Linked DNA regions of Homo sapiens. The protein of the gene in region 2 purifies or fractionates together with the protein of the main gene of each other region. This does not show direct contact. Each region holds a gene or a part of one and is shown on either strand. Other genes may lie near its edges.

Region 1 (3,500 bases), 96 kb from region 2:
CACTCCTCCAACTCTTTTCATTTGCTCTACAACTACTGAGGCACACACTGGTGTCATCAGAATATAAAGATGAATACAGGATATAAAGATGAACAAAACTTTGAACTATTCTAAAGATATATCCAGTTGGGTAGAGATAACAGATATAAGAAAGAATCCTATATATGATTAATGCTGCACCAGCAGCAAGCTCTCCATGCATTGACAGCCCAGGAAATGAGTGATTCTGTATGAGACATGATGACAAAAGGGAGGTGTCATGTCAGGCAGGTCTTCCTAGAGCTGGCCCTTGAAGGATAAACTGCCTTTTGATTAGTCAGGCAGGAATCCCTTTTTAATGAGTTAAATAAATGATTCTGGCTTCTTCCACTTGGATAGCAAGTAATAACAAAAGACTATTTACCTAATTAGATCTAAGCTTGCCACCATTTATTTTAGCTAACACTGATAAACTGATAAGCACTTTACTACCTGCCACTGCTTTTTTTGGGGGGATCAGGGTCTTGCTCTGTCGTCCAGGCTGAGGTGCAGTGGTGCAACCTTGGTTCACTGCAGCCTGAAGCTCCTGGGCTCAAGCAATCCTCTCACCTCAGCCTCCCAAGTAGCTGGGACCACAGGCATGCGCTGCCACACCTAGCTTTCCTTTTTTTTTTGGTATTTTATGTAGAGACTGGGTTTTGTCATGTTGCTCAGGCCGGTCTCGAACTCGTAAGCTCAAGCGATCTGCCTGCTTTGGCCTCCCAATGTGCTAGGATTACAGGCATGAGCCTCCACACCTGGCCTGTGCCACTGCTTTAAACTAGTTACATGCATCATTCATACTGTTGTGGTGGTAGGTACTATTATTATTCCCACTTGGAAGAATGGTGAAATTGAGGCACAGAATGTGTCAGGAACTTACCAAAGGTCATACAGTTAGTGCAAGTGGCAGAGTCAAGATTTAAAAAAACCCAGCAGCCAGACACTGAGCACATGCTTTTAATGTGGCAGTACAGTTTAACACAAATAATATCTATCTCAATGAACTGCTATAAGGGTTGAATGAGATAAGGTAAATACTTATAAGTTAATGTAAGACAGCATTACTTCTTGCTTTTTTTTTTTTTTTTTTTTGAGATGGAATTTCGCTCTTGTTGTCCAGGCTGGAGTGCAATGGTGGGATCTTGGCTCACTGCCACCTGCACCTCCCAAGTCCAAGTGATTCTCCTGCCTCAGCCTCCCAAGTAGCTGGGATTACAGGCATGAGCCACCACACCCGGCTAATTTTGTATTTTTAGCAGAGGAGGGGGTTTCAGCACATTGGTCAGGCTGGTTTCGAACTCCCGACCTCAAGCGACCCACCCACCTTGGCCTCCCGAAGTGCTGGGATAACAGGCGTGAGCCACCACGCCCGGCCACTTCTTGCTCTTTCATTTGTTAGGCTTTTGAGCGCTTTTCTATGGTTCAGGATGCCTCAATGAGCATGAAATTCCACGGTTTCATTTTTAAGGAAAGAAAGGAAACTGGCATTTATTGAGGACTTTCAATATGCCACAATCACTTTAAAGGTATTACTCTAATAACTGCCTTAACTATCTTGAAGGATTTTTACTTGTAAGACTCAAAGTAAATTATCATGCAGTATACAAAGGGGAGGTACTATTCAATTAATTCAATACTTAAAACCCAATTTCCATTACATTAAAAAAGGTATGTGGGAATAGAAGGTATAAAAATTAAAGGACTCCACCTCCATGGGAACCTGTCCTTTGTCATAATTAAGAATACCCTCTCCCATTCACTCATTCATGTTCATTCAGTAACATCTATGTGGGCCTACTATGAGAGTGGTATCTTGCTACTGGAATGTACGATCCCCATCTTAAAAGAGCTCAATAGTCTAGTTTCATAAAACATCTTAAGTCCTATAAAGAAATTCATATGCTATCTCAGCATCGTTTCTTGGACATGTGCAGAAATGCAGAGAATTTAGTTGGTACACACACCAACTTCCCATTACAAATTAAGTAGGCCAACTCACAAAGTCTTAGGTTGGTCCAATAAAGTGGCCACTAGCCACATGTGACTTAACGAGTCCTTTAAATGTGGCTAGTGTGACTGAGGAACTGTATTTTCATTTAATTTTAATTAACTTAAATTCTAAAAATTTATTCTTATCCATTACTGGAAAACTTGTAAGTAGGTCTGGAGCAACTTGAGTATATGAATCTACTTTTTCAAATGTAAATTTTATCATATCTAAATACAGATCAAGTATTTCCAATGAAAATTTAGCACCTGAATTGACACGTGCTTTCAGTGTAAAATATATACTGGATTTCAAACAATTTATATGTAAAATTTCTCAATTTTTAAAAATATTACTAGAAAAGTTAAAAGTATATTAAAATATTACTAGAAAAGTTAAAAGTATATACATAGCTTGTATTTTCTTTCCATTTGACAACACTGGCCTAAAGATGAAATATTCTTATAACTAGAGTATTCCTCTAAAGATTTTTTTTTTTTGAGACAGGGTCTTGCTTTGTTGCCCAGGCTGGAGTGCAGTGGCGTGATCTCGGTTCACCACAACCTCCGCCTCCCAGGTTCAAGCAATTCTCCCGCCTCAACCTCTCAAGTAGCTGGGACTACATGCACCTGCCACCATGCCTGGCTAATTTTGTATTTTTAGTAGAGATGGGGTTTCTCCATGTTGGTCAGGCTGCAGATTCTTACAATGATTTGAGAATTCCTCAAAACTCCTGAGCTTCAACAACTGACTTCAAAGATTGCTCCAGGGCAAGTTGGAGAAGCCTTACCTGTATTTGCCTGTGCTGTGCTTTAGTGTTAGTTCTATTACTACAGGTTAAGTACCTTCCGGTACCAAGCATTTGATTTCAGATATTTTCAAATTTTGGAATATTTGCATATACATAATGAGATAGCTTGGGAATAGGACCCAAGTCCAAACACAAAATTCATTTGTGTTTCATATACACTTTATACCCATAGCCTGAAAATTATTTTATATGATATTTTAAATAATTCTATGTGTGAAAGTTTTGTCTGCATTTTGACTTGTCGCATGAGGTGAGATGTAGAATTTTCCATATGTTGGTGTTCAAAAAGTTTGGGATTTTAGAGAATTTTGGATTTTTAGATTAGGGATGCTCCACCTGTACATGAAAATAGCAACAGAAAAGTTGTGAAACCATTTTAAAATAAACACTAATTACATTTACAAGCTATTTTCTGAAAGCAAGCCAAGATAGAAACAAGGGTAGGAAATTCATCCTTGCTTTCCTGTGAGAAGGCAAACAGAAATAACAACCTATGAAGTAATGTAAAAATGTTCAAAGGAGTAAACAATCTTCCTTTGATGTGATCCAAAAGCACAAACACAATGACAAATGACCTTCCAGGTGTAGAATGAACTTAAGTTTCTATCTTTCAAGCACTCATCTATGCCGTGCTGCAACAGACGTTCTCAGTCTTTTCACACCTTCAATTAGAGATTACTT
Region 2 (3,500 bases):
AAGAATTCAATCTCAAGATATGAGCTTCGTTGAATTCCCTTCCATTAACTCCTTGGAGAAGAGCTGCATTTCCACTCAGGTTTATATTAGGAAATATCACCTGCTCATCAGCAATAAAATCTGACCCTCACAAGCCCTTTTCCCAAGGCCCACCTTTGATTAACGAATTCTGCCAGCCTAACATCCTCTCTCTGTGACAGCGGAGAACTTCAGCCTGAGTGAGTCATTTCTTATTTATTATCAACGGTAACTCAAAATTCATTTTGGTTCCCTTTTAGAATCAGCCACTTTATAATATATTCCAAGGTCTCATTCATATACTGTTGGTGGGAGTATAAATTAGAACAAGCACTTCAGACAAAAAGTCTGGCACTTTCTTTTAAAGCCGAGCACCTACCTCCTTCTGGTCCTGCAATTCTACTCCTAGGTATACAGACCCAATGGAAATGTGTATAGACATTCACCAAAAGTCTGCGGCATTAATAGCCCCAAACTGGAAACTCTCCAAGTACCCACCTACAGTAATGTGAATAAACTCATATATTCACATGCTGGAATAGTGAGAATGAACAAACTACAATTACCCCAACAACCTGACAAGTCTTACACGTAACGTTGAGTGAAAGACACAAAAGAGCATATGCCGTTTGAGTCCATTTACATCAAGTTCAAACACAAGCAAAATCAATCACTGGTATTATTAAGAAGAGAGCAGGTATTCCCTGCCCACGATGGGCAGCAGCTGGAAGAGGGGCACAGAAGGAGGTTGGGGAGGTCAGGAATAATCTATTTCTTGATCTGCTGGTTAAACAGGCATGTTTAGCTTGTGGATACTTATTGCGTAGACTCGTGATAGTGCATTTTTCTGTATATATTTTACTTTAATAAAGAGTTTAAAATGTGTGTCATATTTCCTTGGAAAACGCGCCCCACAGATCCTGGAGGAGGAGCATCTTTAAGGCCTGAAGAATCTGTTATGGAGCCCTGTTACTACTGCCACTTCCCAGTGCTCACACCCACACAGGATCGCTCCCTTCACAGACAGGAAGTAACTGAGGCCAGGGTCAAGGCAGGCAGTCACCTCCTGACCTGACAGGGCAGTGACTCAGTGGGACCCACAGCCCTTTATAGTCCTGTGGCCATGCCACCTTGCTGTCCTGAAGTCTTTCTTTTTTCTTTTTTTTGTGATGGAGTCTCACTTTGTCGCCCAGGCTGGAGTGCAGTGGTACGATCCCGGCTCACTGCAACCTCCGCCTCCCGGGTTCAATTGATTCTCCTGCCTCAGCCTCCCAAGTAGCTGCGATTACAGGCATGTGCCACCATGTCCAGCTAGTTTTTGTATTTTTAGTAGAGACAGGGTTTCACCATGTTGGCCAGGCTGGTCTCGACCTCCTGACCTCAGGTGATCTGCCCGCCTTAGCCTCCCAAAGTGCTGGGACTACAGGCTGAGCCACCATGCCCGGCCCACCTGCAGTCTTTTTAAAATCAAACTGTACAGAATAAGTCTCCAGATCTTCCAACTTAAGAGGGATATGACTTAAGATGGAAAAGACTAACTTAGCTTCAGAGCAGTGGCTAAAGTTGACCTTTTAAGAGTCCTTTGACACATTACCAATAAGACTTTTTTCATTAAGAGTCTCAATAATTCATTTATTCTTCAGCATTGACTCCTTCCTCCCCTCAATCACTGTGATTACTATTCTGAAAATTAAGACTTTCCTTTCTAATTACTACAAATACCTAGAACTACCAAGGAAATAAAAATGTATTCATAAAACTAAAGCTACATCTAATTCCTATTCAGGATCAGACTTAATTAAAAACCAATTTAATGCAGTTGAGTTGCACACTTTAATCACTGAATGAGAACTTCAAAAAAACACACCACCTGGGTTTGAACAAGGGTCTTTCACCTTTCCAAGTAAAATGAGTAGGTCAGACATTCCCGTTAGAAAGGGCTAGAAATCTAGTATCTACTCTTCTTCACCTAAAATCAACAGGAGAGAAGAGGAGAAACAAAGGATGGGGCTGGACGTAGTATTGCCTCTTCCCAACCAGACCACCCTGCCTCAGCCATTGCTCCTCCTACTTAGTGGACTGCCACACAAAATTCCTCTGAGAAAAGAACATCACCATGAGGTGAGGCAGGAGAGGAACCTTGACCCCTCCCTCACTTCCTAGCACGATGAGGACTGACCAAGAGAAAACAAAATGTAATGCCAACTATAAGAATTCTCCCGGCCAGGCTCGGTGGCTCAAGCCTGTAATCCCAGCACTTTGGGAGGCCGAGGCAGGTGGATCACGAGGTCAGGAGATCGAGACCATCCTGGCTAACATGGTGAAACCCCGTCTCTACTAAAAAAAATACAAAAAAATAGCTGGGCTTGGTGGTGGGCGCCTGTAGTCCAGCAGGAGGGTGAGGCAGGAGAATGGCATGAACCTGAGGGCAGAGCTTGCAGTGAGCTGAGATGCACCACTGCACTCCAGCCTGGGAGACAGAGCGAGACTCCCTCTCAAAAAAAAAGAATTCTCCCTTCTCCCCCTAAGGAACATTCTTGCCCACTAAACACAAAATCTACCTCTTTTCAGAGCAGCCAGCACACTGTTCACACCCAAAACAAATGTTCTGTTTCCTGGTGAGTGTGTCGTCACTGAAATGCTCAGTGACTCTGCAAGGCCCACCTCACACTCATTGGTTATACAAGGAATTAAAGGATGCTCACAGCCAAGTCTCCTCCCCAGAACTGGTGCAAGCACCTGGGAAGGGCCCAGTTCTGTCAAGGTGCCATGCATGATGGACTCCCAGAGACACTGGGATGAATCTAACCAGGCTGGAGACTGAGGGCTCCCAGGAGAGAGCCAACATCCACATCGTCTCCTAAGGTTCACTTCAAACCCCAGCCTCCGCTGGAAGGGCAGGATGTCCACATTTAACAGTGCCCTCTGCATGTGACTGTCAATTTCTCAACTGGAGGCAGGCTGGAGGTAATCCAAACTTCACTTGCATTTGGCTCTGGAATATGTTTTTGTGTTTATATGTGATGCTCTAGGAATCCAGACTCCTTCAGGCTACATGATATACTCGCAGAACGCCAGTGCTACAAAATCATCTCCATTAGCTCAGCAAGAATGGGCACCTATTGCATGCTAGTCACTGCCCTCGACACTGGATATACCTCAGGAAACAAAAGCTACATCCCTGCACTGGTAGAGCTTACGCTTCAGAGGGGGAGATGACAAAGTCAGTCAAATACGGGACATGTCAGGGGGTGATGAAGAGAAAGTGATGCAGAGAAGGGGGGCAGGGAGTGGGGGTGGGAGAGCGTCAGAGGCTGACACTCCACACAGGGTAGCCAACAGGCCTGAAGGAGATGAGGGAGCCAGCCATGTGCCATCTAAGGAAAAGCTCTTAGGGATATGCCAAAGTAGACGCAAAGGCCCGGAGGCAGAAGCATGCCTGAGGAACAGAGGCCACCGTGGCTGCAGCAGAGGACAGGGAG

What was found. The genes of interacting proteins can lie anywhere in the genome.
Region 1: the proteins of RRBP1 (region 2) and DSTN purify together in Homo sapiens (affinity purification with mass spectrometry, with the first as the bait; one large-scale study listed by BioGRID). This does not show direct contact.

The regions. Positions count from the first base shown.
Region 1 is NC_000020.11:17,576,575-17,580,074, reverse strand, and holds part of DSTN (destrin), read right to left. Parts: intron 1-3,500. UniProt on the Homo sapiens protein: Actin-depolymerizing protein. Severs actin filaments (F-actin) and binds to actin monomers (G-actin). Acts in a pH-independent manner.
Region 2 is NC_000020.11:17,672,243-17,675,742, forward strand, and holds part of RRBP1 (ribosome-binding protein 1), read right to left. Parts: intron 1-3,500. UniProt on the Homo sapiens protein: Acts as a ribosome receptor and mediates interaction between the ribosome and the endoplasmic reticulum membrane.